2 separate regions of the Homo sapiens genome follow, and region 1 is linked to region 2. The links come from fine-mapping of genetic effects on gene expression. Tissue or cell type: caudate. Region 2 holds a variant in brackets; the other region holds the start of a gene. All regions are shown on one strand. Distances are between the middles of the regions.

Evidence for each region. PIP is the estimated chance that this variant, and not a neighbour inherited with it, causes the effect.
Region 1: it holds the start of STPG3, and the variant in region 2 is fine-mapped to the expression of STPG3 in caudate (GTEx, PIP 0.95).

The regions. Positions count from the first base shown.
Region 1 is chr9:137,247,513-137,255,512 of GRCh38, reverse strand. STPG3 (sperm-tail PG-rich repeat containing 3) reads right to left here and starts at 4,227. Exons shown (of 6, transcript NM_001004353.4): 1 at 4,117-4,227; 2 at 3,618-3,775; 3 at 3,378-3,512; 4 at 2,988-3,076; 5 at 2,548-2,851; 6 at 2,030-2,398. The coding sequence starts at 4,226. The coding sequence ends at 2,268. CIMIP2A (ciliary microtubule inner protein 2A) reads left to right here and starts at 7,762. Exons shown (of 7, transcript NM_001001710.3): 1 at 7,762-7,853. The coding sequence starts at 7,798. It overlaps NELFB (negative elongation factor complex member B), which reads right to left and starts at 186. Exons shown (of 13, transcript NM_015456.5): 1 at 1-186. The coding sequence starts at 147. It overlaps STPG3-AS1 (STPG3 antisense RNA 1), which reads left to right and starts at 2,016. Exons shown (of 4, transcript NR_038389.1): 1 at 2,016-2,350; 2 at 2,538-2,638; 3 at 3,007-3,122; 4 at 4,146-5,294. It also overlaps LOC124902316.
Region 2 is chr9:137,677,468-137,685,467 of GRCh38, reverse strand. All of the region lies in intron 1 of EHMT1 (euchromatic histone lysine methyltransferase 1), which reads right to left. It overlaps LOC124902319 (a long non-coding RNA gene), which reads right to left and starts at 5,055. Exons shown (of 2, transcript XR_007061886.1): 1 at 133-5,055. The variant A/G (reference allele first, on the strand shown) is at 4,279.

The sequences.
Region 1 (8,000 bases), 430 kb after region 2:
CATGGCCGAGGCCCCGGCCACCGCCCGGCTAGGCGCCCCATCCCCAGCCCGTTCCCCCGGCGCCGCCGCAGACACCCCAGAAGCCCGCTCCGCCGGGCCTCGGGGACCGCCCGAGCCCCGCTCCCCGGCGCCCTCCAGCTCGGCCAGGTCCCGCCCGCCGCGCGACTCCGCGCGCGTCCCGCAGCCGCCCACTTCCGCCCCGCACCGCCCAGGTCCGCCCGCCAACCGGCCCCCGGGAAACGCCGCCGGGGCCGCGCGCAGGTTCCTGGGAGCAGCGCCCTCACCCGGCGCGAGAGACCCCGCCCAGCCAGCCCAGCGCGCATGCGCCCACCCGGTCCCGCCCGCGCCCGGGCTTTCTGGCAGAAGAGGGCGGGTGAGGGCGTGGGGGGCGGACTCAGGGTCCGTCTGCTCCGGGAACGGACGTCGTCGCAGCCGAGTGAATTTCGTGTACATAAGCGTGGAAAACGCTCTTGCAGATCTCGCGGCAGCCACGCGCAGCGGGGACGTTTTGCCGGGGGTTGAGCTCCCCGCCCCTCTGCCCCGCAGGGGCCGGACACAGGCGCAGACTCCCTCCTGAGCGTGGGTTCCTCCGCGTGAAACGGGCACGAAGCCCACCCCGGCGCTGTCGCCAAAACTGAGATCTGAGCGCCTTCAGGGGGCCGGGGCCTGGCGGAGACCGGGCCCGCAGCGGGAGCGCGAGCGACGGCCGCCCTCCCAGGCACCGGGAGGCTGTGGCGCCCACCGAGCTCCGCGGAGCCGTGAAGGAGAGTCCAGGTTCCACAGTGTCCCTTCTTATCCCAGGCGGGTGGGCTCCCCGGGCCTCCCCGCCTCTCCAGCCCGCCGCCCTCCCGCAGGCTGTGCCGCGCCAAGCCCCCTACACACACCCTCTCTCTTTTCGGTCTCCGCTGCTGAAATTTTCTCTAGAAATTTCTTTCCCGCTGCCCAGCAAACTCTTGCTCTTCCTTGAAGGCTTCTTCCTCCACCACCTCCTCCAGGAAGCCCTCCCTCCTCAGCCCAGCTGGAGGAGATCGCTCCATCTTTCCTGCCGCTCCCACTCCTAGCTTTGGGTCTCACCAGGGGTGCCTGGTGGTGCAGCCGTGAGCAGAGCTCCTGTTCCCACAAGCCGGGCCGAGCTCCCAAGGCCATGGCTACCACAGCTCTCTTGCCGCTGGCCAAGTTGGTCAGCCCTAGGGCGAGGGTTCCAGTGCCTTGATCCAACCCCCAGCTGGTTCGGTGGCAGAGGAGGACAAGGGTCACAGCACACACACAATCCTGAGCCTGGGATTCCTCTCTGAGAAAGGGGGTGGTGCTGAGGCCACAGAAGCAGCTGCCCAGAGCCTTTTTGAAGGGGTTGAGCTCTGGGCCTGGTCTGGGTCCTGGGTCTGGGGAGGACCTGGGGAGGTGCGGGTGACGGCACCGCAGGTAAGGCTCCTGCAAGGTGGCAGCCTTGGGGCCCGACCCTGGGTAGGAGGGCAGGCCAGTGATGACAAGGGAGGCCCCAGCCAGGCGAAGTTGCAGGCAGGGGCAGTGCAGGGTCCCAGCAGGTGAAGGCCCCGGGAGTGGAGTCTGCAGGGCCCTGGGCCAGAGTGTTCAGGGCACAGGTGACTAAGCCCAGCCAGGTCTTCAGCTCAAGGCCTAGGGGAAGTGGGGCTGGGCCCTGGTGAGCAGATCCCTGGGCCCTTCCTGAGGTCTGGCCAGGCCGACCCCACCTGGAGGTGGCGGCTCAGGGCATTTGACGCCTCCTTCCCAGTTCCCTGGCTCGGCAAGCAGCTGACCCTCAGGTGGACAGCAGCTAGACCAGGCCCCTGAGTGACACGGCTGGGTGGGGGTGTCCCACAGAGCCCACCTCCCATCTCGCTCCAGGCTAGAGCTCAGGGTCAGTCACAGGCTGCCACCCTAGAGAAGAGAGCACCTTTCAGGGGCAGCTGAATGGAGACCCCTCAACAGGGAAAGCCGGAAATGACCCAGCGGCAGCCATATCTCTAGGACCGCCCCCGGGTGAAGGACAGACAACTGCACACCACAGAGCTCGGGAAAACCAACAGCATCTCAGTGTAGCGGGGAGATGGGCAGATGGGGGATCCAGGCTGGGCCAGCCTTGTCCACAGCCCATAGAAGGGTTGGCCAGCCAGAAGGGTGCATCGGGGTGCCCAGAGGGTCAGAAGGCCAGGCTGGGGCCCCAAGTCCCAGGGGAGGCCTGGGAAAGCCCCGGGGGAGGCCATGGTTCCACTCGGTGGCCGGGCCAAGCAGGTTGTGCCCAGCTGGCTCTAGAGCGTGCAGAAGGGGCCTGTGTCGTGGCGCTTGGGTCTGCGTACACCCTGGATGACCACGCCAGGCGCCGAAGGGAAGCGTGAGTTGCAGTCCTCCACGTGGTAGGCGGCTGGGCCAGGGGTTCGGGCTGCCGAAAGAGAAGGCTGGGAGCCCCACCCAGGTAGCAGCCCCAACTCAAACCTGGCTCCCAGTTCCCACCCCCGGCCCCTGAACCCTTGTCCTCACATTGCCCACCCATGCCCCATCCCTAGCCCTCTTCTCTCCAGGCCTCCTTACAGGTGCTGAGCCAGGAGGTGAACGCAGGGGAGCGGCTCATCGAGAAGGCCGGCGAGCGGGGGCTCTGCAGGCGGCTCCCAGGAAGGATATTGTAGGTGTTGGGGCCAGGGCATCTCTTGCCAGGTGCCTGCAAAGAGGCCTGAAGCAGGGACTGGGGCTGCACCCTGAGGCCCAGCCCCCTAGCCCCAGGCAGCCCTAGGTGGGTGTGGCCTTCAGGTGTCTTGGAAGCGGAGTGGCAGCCTCTGAAGCTGAAGGCGGGGAAGGCGGGCCGGCTGAGCAGCTGGTAGTGGGCTGGCGAGGGCCACTGCGAGGGGGTAGGAGACGGGCTGCAGGGCAGGGTGCTCCCCACGGACCCTCAGCCAGCCCCCCTTTGGCCCCACTGGAACCCCCAGCCCCCTGCCTGCGTGGACTCCCCGCCCCCTTCCTGCCCAGCCCCCAACCTTTTGCTCTTGGTCGAAGTCAGCTTTCTGCGTGAAGGGGCTTTCGCTCTGGAACCACAAAGTCTGCCATGCCCTGCGGCCACCGCCCTCTGTAGTTGGAGGATGGAGAGAGAGAAGGCTGGGAGCCCCACCCAGGTGACAGTCCCCACTCGAACCTGTCTCCCGGTTCCCACCCTCGGCCCCTGAACCCTTGTCTTCACAATGTCCACCCATGCCCCAGCCCTAGCCCTCCTCTCTCCAGGCCTCCTTACAGGTGCTGAGCCTAGAGGTGAACGCAGGGAAGGGTGGAGGGGCCCTCAGGCCGTGGGGGTTTCAGCACAGAGGCAAAGGCCCCCATTCCCAGGGTGAGGGACAGGCCCGGTGGTTGGGCCTCAGGGAGGGGACACACACCTCGGCCCTGGTGCTTGCAGCCGATGCTGTAGTGGGGGTGTGGGGAGGACTCTCGTACGGACGGGCTCGGCACCTGGTACCTGGTGGGGCTGGGGACTTCCAGGTCAGCTGTGATCAGGGGGCGTTGCTCCAGCACTGGCCACAGGAAGCAAGCTCTGGGCCTGGGCTCCTTTCAGCGGGCCCCTCCCACAGCCCCCCAAAGACCAGCTTGGGGGTGGGGTGGCCAGGACCCTCACTCACATAGTTCCCTCAGGGTCTGGGTGTAGGTGGGCAGGGACTCCTGGGGGGTGCCCGTCTGTAACCTGAGGCCAACTGGGATCTCCTTCATCTTTGGGGGCTGTGTCTCATCCCAGGCCATCCCCGGCTCCGGGCCCAACAACAGCACAGATGCCTTGGGCCTGCAAGGGAGACCAGCAGCCACTGTCTCAGCCCCCGGCCGCTCCCAGCCACATGCCCCACAGCCTGTCCCCTCTATTGTCCCTCAGCCCCCGGCTGCTCCCAGCCACGTGCCCCACAGCCTGTCCCCACACTGTCCCTCAGCCCCTGGCCGCTCCCAGCCGCCTGTCCCCTCTACTGTCCCTCAGCCCCTGGCCGCTCCCAGCCGCCTGCCCCACAGCCTGTCCCCACACTGTCCCTCAGTCCCCCAGCCGCCTGCCCAGCAACCTGCCCCCCACACTGTCCCTCAGCCCCCTGGCCACTCCCAGCTGGCCCGCCCCTTCTCCCCCTCTCCGCCAGTTACTGGGTGGGCTCTGGTTGTGTCTGCCTCAGGTGACCATGGGTCCAGTGTTTGCCTCCATTGATGTAAAAATTTGCCAGGAATTTCACTGCCTTCTGGTCAGAATTCATCATCAGAGTCTCCTGGCTCTCTTCCCCAACGGCACCACGGAGCTCTGTGACCTCACTGGTAGGCCCCTCTGTTGCTGGGACTCCTGAGGAAGACACATTGTCTGGCCCTGGAGGGGCTGCCCCGGGCCCCGACCCCTGGTGGGCCCCTCCCCCACTAACTAGATGATCAGCGGGTCCGCCTGGGCCAGGACCCCCAGCCTGCCCCGGTGACTCCTGGCCCAGCCCTCTCCCTCCCCGCAACCTTTCCAGCCTTCTCCCCTCTCCTGCACCCTGGGGTCTCCTGGGAGTCTGGGGTCCACTCTAGCAGGTCTGGGAGGACTGAGGCCTCAGCAGAGGGGGTGGAGGGAACAGGACCCACCGGCATCCACCAAGCCCTAGGAGATGCCCAGCTGTGTCTGGCCAGCCAGGACCCCCTGGGGGTAGGAGGGAGGGGCCCAGGAAGGCTCCCTGGAGGAAGAGGAGGAGCCGCCACCCCATCTGGATTTCCACTTAAGGGAAAAGCAAATCCACATCAGATGGGTCTGACACCAGAGGCAGGCCGGGCCTTGGAGCCCAGCCAGGGCTGGGGTGTGAGGGCCTACCTCTCACCTGGGGGCACAGAGGCTAGAGGGTGTCACAGATGGCCGGGCTGCCAGAGCTGCAAAGGAACAGCCAGCCTGTGTGAGCAAGAGCCCGTGTGGGCACCAGGGCCCTCACTGTGTGGTCTCTGGAGCTGACCACCAGTTGGTCCCAGCCCTGACCTTGGCCCAGAATCCACCAGGGCAGGGCCTGTGAACAGGGCCAACTTGGGGCCCTCCTCCGCCCTCTCTGGATGCCTCCCCTTCAGCACTGGGCCTGCCAGGCAGACAGATGGACACGTGCTTGAGGAAACACGGGTTTTATCTGGGCGAGGGGTTCACGCCTGTGCTCCGGGGCCCCTGCCCAGGTTGTGCCGGGTTCAGAGTTGACTGGCTGCCAGTGGAACAGAGTGTACTTTGCTAATGAAGCCCTTGTCATTGGACAGATAGGCTCCTCCAGGTCCTCCCTGCCCTGTAATAAACGTTGCCACCGTGAATGGTGCTGCTGGACATCCATCCTCTCCTTGAGAAGGTGCGTGGGGGAAATGCTCTCTCAGTGTCCGGCTCTGCGCCCACACCACCACAGCCGTCACAGAAGGAGGCCTCTGCCCAAATGTTGAGGGAGGGGGGTTGTTCCCCACACACCAAGCTGGGTGTCCTCTAATTCATTTCCTTCACCATTTACCTGGAGATGGTGTCAGATCCCACAGGGTGAGAGCTCCATCCCAAGAAGGCCTCCAGACACAGATAGGGGCAGGGCCTCCAGACACACACCAGTCGCAAGCCTGGGCCCCTGGAACTTCTGACCAACTAGCTTCAATTTGGGGTTCCTGTGACACCGTCTTTGGGTTAATTTGCTGGAGCCACTCATAGAACTAGGGAAGTTATGACGTTTACTGGTTTATTGTAAAGGGTATTGATTGCAAAGGATACCAATGAAGAAGCGTAGAGAGAGGCACGGGGAGGGGCTGGCGCTTCCATGTCCTCGCTAGTTGCCGCCCTCTGGGAACCTCCAGGTGTTCCCCTGTCCAGAAGTTCCCTGAGCCTCAGTCCTCTTGGGATTTTACGGAAGCTTCCTGATGTCAGCATTCCTGCCCCCAGGGCTTAGGTGGGACCTCTCCTGGAAGGGTCTTAAGACCCACAGTCAGAAAGGTGAGAATGTTAGCGTCCTGCCTTGGGGCAGGTGAAAGGAGGGCAGGAGGTAAAAGTCCCCCGCCCGCACCCCCCAAGCATCACCCACCCAACATTCTAACAAAAGGCCCTACCAAGGGCTATGGGAATATGGGAATTACCAGCCAGGAACGGTGGAGGAAAACCAGCGTCTACCAGAATGCCAGACAGCTTCTTAGGAGTGGAAGCAATGGTCCCAGTTTGCAGTGTCTTGTATGGACGTGATCCATACCAACTTGGTTTCCAGAAGGCACCACCCAAATTAGAGGCCCTTCTCACTGTGACCCTGCCGGCAGTAAGCCTCAGAAACTGCTCTCAACACACAGTCAGCATGTATGTGATTATGGTCCTGCTTTATGCCCTTATATTTACGGACTGCGGTCTTTTTTTCTTAAAAAGGTCATATTGGCCGGGCACAGTGGCTCACGCCTGTAATCCCAGCACTTTGGGAGGCCGAGGTGGGCGGATCACGAGGTCAGGAGTTCGAGACCATCCTGGCTAACATGGTGAAACCCTGTCTCTACTAAAAATACAAAAAAAAAAACCATATTAGTCTGCATTTTCCATGGAGGTGTTGTTTATATCTTTGTTTTGTGAGAGCTTTTTATGCTGATACCAGATTTGTTCATAGCACTTACTGCAAACTTTTTTCCAGTTTTTTAGTTTGCCTTTTAGTTGTTTTTTTGTTTGTTTGTGAGAAATGGTCTGGTTCTGTTGCCCAGGCTGAAGTGCAGCGGTGCGATCTCAGCTCACTACAGCCTCAACCTCCTAGGCTCTGGCCATCCTCCCACCTCAGCCTCCCAAGTAACTGGGATCACAGGCACATTCACCATGCCTGGCTAATTTTTCTTTCTTTTTTGTAGAGGTGGGGTTTCCCCATGTTGCCCAGCTGGCCTGAACTCCTAGGCTCAAGCAATCTGCACACCTCATCCTGCCTCGGCCTCCGAAAGCACCGCAATTATAGGCATGAGCCACAGTGCCCAGCCTTTCTTCTTTCTTTCTTTTTTTTTTTTTTTTTTTGAGACAGAGTCTCACTCTGTGGCCCAGGCTGGAGTGCAGTGGCACGATCTCAGCTCATTGCAATCTCCACCTCCTGGGTTCACGCCATTCTCCTGCCTCAGCCTCCCGAGTAGCTGGGACTACAGGCGCACGCCACCGCACCTGGCTAATTTTTGTATTTTTAGTAGAGACGGGATTTGACTATGTCAGTCAGGCTGGTCTCGAACTCCTGACATGATCTGCCTGCCTCGGCCTCCCAAAGTGCTGGGATTACAGGTGTGAGCCACCGTGCCTGGCCGCCTTCCTTCATTTTTATGGTTAGGAAGTCCTTCCTGTACAAAAAAAGAACAAAATTCAGGATTTGCTTAAAATGTAAACATAACACCCTGCGCCACATGAAGGGCTGGAGGGAGAGTTCGCACAGCCCTGCAGGCCGGGAAGCCCCTGACTCGAGCCAAGGCTCTGCAGCTGCAAGGCCTCCTGTCAGAGGAGGGGGCCTGGGGACTCCCTTAGCCTCACCCTGAGACTGGGGCTGGTGGCCTCCTGGGGGCAGCAAGAGCCCAGGCCCTTTCTGGAGGGACAGTCCTGTTTTCTGAGCTCTGAAGTTAATGGGACTTCCTCCCGGACCACCTGCCTCACCGCAACTCCTCCCCTGCCTGGCACCTGTCTGGGCCTCAGTGTCTCACCTGTGCAATGTGGGCCCTCACAGGGTTAGCGAGGTGGCCTGGCCCAGGAGGTGCCCACAATGCTGGCCCCTCACAATGGTTGCCCGGTGACAGGACTCCCCTCAGGGAAGGGAGCTGGATGCCGGGAGGGACTGGAGCCAGCAAGGCCAGAGTGAAAGCAAAATGACAACTACTCAGAAACACGATCTCTTCACGCCGGAGCCTCACTATGTCCCTGGGTGAGAGCCGGGAGCTCTGGAGGTGGCTGGGGCCAGGGCTGCAGGAGGGGGAGAATGGCTGGGGCCTGAGGCATGGAGGCCAGCTGTGAGGGGCCCAGAGCTGGACCCCAGGAAACTGAAGGCCACACCACGGGGCACTGCAGTCTG
Region 2 (8,000 bases):
GAATAAACAAAACACAGTATATATCCAGGAATGGGTTCTGATACCTGCTACAACCTGGGTGAATCTTGAAAACCTTATGCTACATGACATAAGCCAGACACAAAAGGACAAATATTGTATAATTCCACTTACATGAAATATCGGGTTTAAGCAAATTCAGAGACAAAAAGTCTATCAGGGGTTACCAGGAGCTGGGAGGAGGAAGATAAGAGAAGTTACTGTTTAATGGATACAGAGTTTCTGCTTGGGGTGATGAAAATGTTTTGGAAACAGACTGATGACGGTTACAATGGTTGTTATGCAACACTGTGAAGGTACTTAATGCCACTTAATAGCACACTTAGAAATGGCTAAAGTAGTAAAATTTATGTTAAGTATACTTTATCACAATAAAAAAACCAGCAAGGGGAAAAAAGATTTAGAGGTATACAAACAAACCTTACAGATGCAATCATAAATTTCTTTAATTTGTGGCTATGAGACCAATGCAATTATTAGAAAAGACTCCTTTAAAAGGAAAAATACAATGTATATGCAGTAATTCAAATCAGAAAATAATAACTTGTGGAGTAAAAAAACAGGACATAGCAAAATACCACATATATATTTTAAACATACATATAAACTTCCTGACGTTGACTAGTTATATCATAATTCAGTAAAAGAATGGCTTTGTACGCTGGGTATGGTGGCTCATGCCTACAATCCCAGCACGTTGGGAGGCTGAGGTGGAGATCGCCTGAGCTCAGGAGTTCGAGAGCAGCCTGGGCAAAGTGGTAAAACCCTGTTTCTACCAAAAATTGAAAAAATTAGCCGGGCCTAATGGCACATACCTGTGGTCCCAGCTACTTGGGAGGCTAAGGTAGTAGGATTGCTTGAGCCTGGGAGGTGGAGGTTGCAGTGAGCCAAGATCACACCACTGCACTCCAACATGGGTGACAGAGTAAGACCCCATCTCAAAACAAAATCAAAAACAACAACAACAAAAAATAATGGCTTTGTAGGAAATACACGCTAATGTATTTAGGAATGAAGGGGCATCTAGGCAACTTTCAAACGGCTCAAGAAAAACATCTCATTTATCACACTTGCAACTTTTCTATTCAGTTGAAATTATTTCAAATTAAAAACAGTTGGCCAGGCACAGTGGCTCACCCCTGTAATCCCAGCACTTTGGGAGGCCAAGGCGGGCAGATTGCTTGAGTCCAGGAGTTTGAGACCAGCCTGGGCAACATGGCAAAACCTCGTCTCTACAAAAAATACAAAAATTAGCCAGGCGTGGTGGCATGCTCCTGTCCCAGCTACTCAAGAGGCTGAAGTGGGAGAATCACCTGAGCCCGGGAGGTCGAGGCTACAGTGAGCCGTGACTGCAACCACTGCACTCCAGCCTGGGTGACAGAGTGAGGCCCTGTCTCAAAAAACAAGCAAAAAAACAAACAAACAAACAAAAAACAGTTAATAGGAAAAAAATGAAATATATACAAAGCAATATTATATTGTTGACGGGTTCAAGCATCTCTCTAAAAAATTAAAGGCAAAGATCTTGAAGGATATACATCAAACTCATCACAATACAAGCTGCGGGGGTGGAGAGTGAGGGGGTAGGTAGGGACATTCTGCTTGAATGGGATTTGATTTTGAAAAGATAAACTCGTGTCATTGTATAATTTTTTTAATTTAAATAAAGGAAATTAATAGGGAAAAAATAAAAACTATGCATAAGCCAATTACTTTAACATTCAAGTATAACCTTCCAAACATTTTTCTGTGCAAATACGCTGATAAAGGTATAATTTACACATATTATATAAATGAGATACTACACATACTGTTAGACGACCACTTTTCCCTTAACCAATATGAGCAAAAAAATCTACATCATAGCCAGTCATGATGGTGCACCTGTAGTCTCAGCTACTTGGGCTTGAGCCCAGGAGGTTGAGGCTGCAATGAGCCATGATTGTGCCACTGCACTCCAGCCTGGGCAACATAACATGACCTCATCTCTATTAATTAATTCACATATTCACACAGTCGTTAAATGTTTGGAAGGTTATACATGAATGTTAAAGGCACTGGCTTATGTATAGTTTTTACTCCCCCTCCCAGCCTTATTAATTCCCTGGGGGCACCAGCAGAAATTCTCACTGCTATTTAGCCTTATCGTAGCACCAAATAGCAGATCCGCTTTTACCTCAGGGACTCTGATCTCTTGTCTACAAATGCCATTTTAACAAAGATTCAAATAAGTGTAATATATTCTGTCTCTGAGCTTGTATCCCATAGTAGCAGCTTTACTGATGATTTTAATAAAGTCTATTAAATGAGAATGCCTGTCAAACAGTGACCTAACTAACCCATGTAACAGAAACACAATTTTGGCTTTTATGCTTATTAATATAACTGAATCTAGCTGTGGAAAGAACTAGAAACTGAAATAAAAGTGGTGTGCGAAAATCCTGCAAACCCAGAGTTAAGGCCAGGGCACACAGGCCCTTCCGCCTGACTCTCAGTTCCAACTGGTGCAGCGTGTGGGCACTCACTCGCACGTGCAGGGCAGCCCCTGCAGGCAGCGCACCTGTTCGCAGCTGGGCTGGAGTGACCCATCGTCCTAGGGGCCCAGCACTGCCTGTCCAGTAACAGAAATCACATCCTTCCCCACCTCTCCAGCCGTGGGGCCTGCGGGTCTCAGTGCAGCACTGAGACTAACAGAGCAGCCGTCATCCTCAGGGGGTTGGATATGACCCCAGGGACAGCTCACCGCCCACGGGGAAGGCGGCACACAGAAGTAAAGCCTCTCCAAGCTCCTTGTCATGTGAGGTGACAAGTGGCCTCTTTAGCAGAAGCTGATCTAAGCTGGTTTCTGCCACCTGGTGAAGAGGCCCAGGGTCACACCTCTATCTCAAGGCATCCCAGCGGCTAGCAAACTCTAGCACAGCCCTGCAACTCTGGCCGCCAGGGAGACGCTCGCTACAGCAGCCTGAACTTGGCTAGTTCAGGCTAAGATTTGAGAAAGATAAAAGTTCTCAGTCAAAAAATGACTTCTTAGAAATCATAAATTTTCCATCAAAAATAATAAACTCAGTATTTCCTCACATAACACATAAAGGTTGGTACTGGGGGGAAAAAACAACAGTTCACCTGACATTTTTAACTTTTTGAGATTTTCAAGTATTTAATAAATTCCAAACCCAGTGGCTGCTTTAAAGAGGACGATTTTGGCCGGACACGGTGGCTCACGCTTGTAATCCCAGCACTTTGGGAGGCTGAGGTGGGCGGATCATGAGGTCAGGAGATTGAGACCATCCTGACGAACACGGAGAAACCCCGTCTCTACTAAAAATACAAAAAATGAGCGGGCGTGGTGGGGGCGCCTGTAGTCCCAGCTACTCGGGAGGCTGAGGCAGGAGAATGGTGTGAATCCGGGAGGCAGAGCTTGCAGTGAGCCGAGATGGCACCACTGCACTCAAGCCTGGGCGACAGAGCGAGACTGCCTCAAAAAAACAAACAAACAAACAAAAAAACACAAAAACCGCGAGGACGGTTTCACTGTGAGGAGAGCTTCCCGCATCAGTGACCCGCCTCACGCTTACGTACCAGACACACTGCAAACTTTCCAGGGAATGAATGAGCACAATGTCTCACCACACAAACACCTGGAGGGGCACATGGACTTAGCAAAAGTCAGATCTGGTCAAAATACAGGAGGGAAAAGCAGAATGAGTGTGTGCGATCCAGAGGTGCAGGGGAGACTCGGATGCCTCGGCACCAGCTGTGCCTCATGGGAAACTGGAGACAGGAGAGAAAGTGGACGGGCGTGGGAGGCTTCCTGGGGACAAGGGAAGCCTGTGAAGGTATCAGGAAAGCAAACAGATGTCACCTGGACAAGCAGGGAAATTAGAAATACCAAGGCAGTGGACAATTCTGAATTGCTGGAGAGAAAAAACAACATATTTTGCTACTACAAATAACGAAGGAATTTTAGTCAAAGCAGTTTTGTACTGTTTTTGTATCAATAATATATTAAGCCAAGTTCCTCAGGATCTATAATTATATATTTTATAGGCCAAAAGAATTTGTGGGATGTGTAATGCAGCTACTACAAAGTTATAGCAAAATCCTGAGGCCTGGAGCTAAATACAATTCTCAGGGTTCCAAAGTAACCCCTGCACACTTAGATGCTGGTTACAGACACGCGGCAAAAACACTGAAAATGTGGCAGATTCCATCACCTGCCCCAGCAGGACAGCTCCCCGGGGACAGAGAACTGAACCACCC[A/G]GTTCTCCCTCCTTTCTTGCTTGCAGTTCTCAAGAAAAACTTTCCAATGTGCTGGGAATGCAACACCCTGAGATAAGGAGCAGCTGAGAGTGGCCTGGGCTTTGCTCCTGTCCCTCCCACAACAGGGTGTCCTAAAACTCAGTCCAGCGGGTCAGGTGGCCCCGAGTATAAAACCCAAAATAGCACTTTCGGGGTCTCCCAACTGCAGTACAACATAGGGCACACACAGATAATGCAGACAAGACCCCATCCACCCTGGCCACTTGCCTGAGCCTTGGGGGCCAGATCACCACGAGCCCCGGCATCTGCTGTCCCCTGCTCATCTGTGAGTGACAAGCCTGCTTCGTGCAACTCGCACGCAAGTGTCCGGCCTCACCAGTCTCACGCAGCGGCCCCAGTGTGGTGTGGGGAGCAGCTCGGGGTTAGGGTCTCACAGGTGGTGCCCCGCACACAGTGCACCTTCTTTGCATCCCCCCACACTGAGGCCTCTCTGGAAGACTGCAGTATCTAATTTCCAACTACCTTCTGCCATGGTTGCTAAGAAAACATGGTGCAGGACCATCTCACAATGGACAAACAGTACTGATGAAAAACACTGGTATCTCACACAGAACGTGAACAGTACAATCTACCTTTTCTCATGGACTATTCCTTCTGGTAAATCTATACATAATTTATTTCCATGCAAATTATGACCCACTTGATAATTGTTTTTTTGAGACAGAGTCTGGCTCTGTCGCCCAGGCTGGAGTGCAGTGGCACAATTTCAGCCCACTGCAACCTCTGCCTCTCCAGTTCAAGTGACTCTCATGCCTCGGCCTCCCAAGTAGCTGGGATCACAAGCGTGCACCACCACACCTGGCTAAATTTGTATTTTTAGTAGAGACGGGGTTTCTCCATGTTAGCCAGGCTGGTCTTGAACTCCTGGCCTCAAGTGATCCACTCGCCTCGGCCTCCCAGAGTGCTGGGATTATGGGTGTGAGCCACCGCACCTGGTCCCACCTGATGCTTTTAATAGCATAAGCAACTAAAAAAAAGCCACAAGACTTTCATCTAAAAACAGGAACACAATACAAGATACAGATACAACGTAGAGGCATTTCGCATCAGCAGGAAGGGGGAATACAATACAAGATACAGATACAACGTAGAGGCATTTCACATCAGCAGGAAAGGAGAATAATCAAACACTCACTGAGACACTGAGGCAGCTGGCTAAGTACTGGGAGGAGAAGGCCATCAGCATTGCAGATCAATGAGTGAAAGAATCATAAAACAATAAATCACAAAAACAGCAGGAAAAAATACCTGACAGCCCTGAAACAAGGAACTCCTGACTCTAGGCACAATGCCAAGGTCAGAAATCACAAAGGAAAAGCTTTACAGATTTAACTACCAAAATATTTCAAACATTTATATGGTAAAAATGAATAAATAAACTTTAAAACACAGAAAAAAATATCCAATGTATTTGGCTAAGTACAATAGCTTTACTTACTCTTAACTCTATAAGGAAAGAACTACAAATCAGTTTTTTAAAAAAGACAACATAAAAACGGGCAAATGAATTAAACAGGCATTCCCAAATGGCCAACAGACATACAGGAAAATGCTCAACCCCATCAGTGCTCAGGAATTAGTAAGAAGAGGAGGAAACACCTCCCAGCGCCTTCTGTGAGAACAGCATTACACAGAAAACAAAGGGAACTCCACATCAGTAACCCCTAACAAAACATCAGCAAATGAATGCAACCGCATGTCAAGAGGGTGCCACACTGAGGACCACCCGAGATGTATCCCAGGTGCAAGGCTGCTTGAACCTGAAGATCAATCGCAGCAGTCCCCTGATCCGTGGTTTTGCTTGCCACAGTTTCAGTTACCCACAGTCAACCACAGTCCAAAAATATTAAATGAAAAATTCCAGAAACAAACAATTTCTCAGGTCGGGCACAGTGGCTCACACCTGTAATCCCAGCACTCTGGGAGGCCGAGGCGGGCAGATCACGAAGTCAGGAGTTCGAGACCAGCCTGGCCAACATGGTGAAACCCCGTCTCTATTAAAAGTACAAAAATTAGCTGGGCATGGCGTGTGCCTGTAGTCCCAGCTACCCAGGAGGCTGAGGCAGGAGAATCACTTGAACCCGGGAGGCGGAGATTACAGTGAGCGGAGATCGCGCCATTGCACTCCAGCCTGGGCGACAGAGCCAGACTCCATCTCAAAAAAATAAAATAAAATAAAATAAGATAAATAAACAAATTCTCAGTTTTCAGCTGCACACTGCTCTGAGTAGCATGCTAACTCTGGCACTGCACCATCAGTCCTGCCCTGGATGTGAGTCCTTTCTCTGTCCCTGTGTCCATCCTGTAACCAATGCCCATCTGCCAGCTGCTGGGCAGCCGTCTCCCTCGTCAGATAGACAGATCACAAGACGCCGACTGAGTAGAGTGCAATACGTTTTTCGGGGGGAGCGGGGGGGGGGACATTCATATAACTTTTACTGTGCCTGATTTATAAACTAAACTTTACCATCGGTATATGTGTCTAAGAAAAAAACCTGGTATATAGAGAGTTCAGTACTATCTGTGATTTCAGGCATCAGCTAGGGATCTCAGAAGGTATCATCCCAGGTGAGTGAGGCTATCCCAACGCGGCGAGACAGGAACACCAGACAGAACACGCACGGCTGCACGCAGGGAACTGACACGGACAGAAAGCACATGATCGTGACAACGGAGGGAGAAAAAGCATTTCACAAAATTATTTCACAATAAAAAGTTCAACCTGATAAAGGATATCTACGAAAATCTTGTGGTTACCAACTTACTCAGCAGCGTTATGGTGAAAGGCCTCATGCTTCCCCCCAGCGATCAGGAAAAGCCATGGAGGTGCCACTTCCACAGCATTCAAACACTGTGCTGGGGGCTCTAGCAGTGTCATCAGGAGAGAAAAAACAAATCACAAGAAACAAAAATGGCCCCTAATCTTACCACCAACAGTAAACATCTTAGTATATCCCTTACAGATTTTTTATATTAGTGGATTATATACTAGTTTTTAATCTATTTTTCCACTAAACCTGATTAAGATTTTGACAACATTATTATTATTATTATTATTTTTGAGACGGAGTCTCGCTCTGTCGCCCAGGCTGGAGTGCAGTGGCGCCATCTTGGTTCACTGCAAGCTCCGCCTCCCGGGTTCACGCCATTCTCCTGCCTCAGCCTCCTGAGTAGCTGGGACTACAGGCGCCCGCCGCCACGCCCGGCTTTTTTTTTTTTCTTTTTTTGTATTTTTAGTCGAGACGGGGTTTCACCGTATTAGCCAGGATGGTCTCAATCTCCTGACTTCGTGATCCGCCCGCCTCCGCCTCCCAAAGTGCTGGGATTACAGGCGTGAGCCACCGTGCTCGGCTGACAATACTATTTTTTTAAGATACACAACAGTGTTGTGTTATATAGTAACAGCACAATCTACCCAACCAACTCTTTTTGTCAATTATAAACACCACTGTGGCTGACTCTGTGTACCCCCTTCATTAAAAATGCCTAGTCCTGGCTAACACGATGAAACCCCGTCTCTACTAAAAATAGAAAAACTTAGCCGGGCGTGGTGGCGGGCGCCTATAGTCCCACCAACTCGGGAGGCTGAGGCAGGAGAATGGCGTGAACCCGGGAGGCAGAGCTTGCGGTGAGCAGCCCGGACGAAAGAGGGAGACTCCATC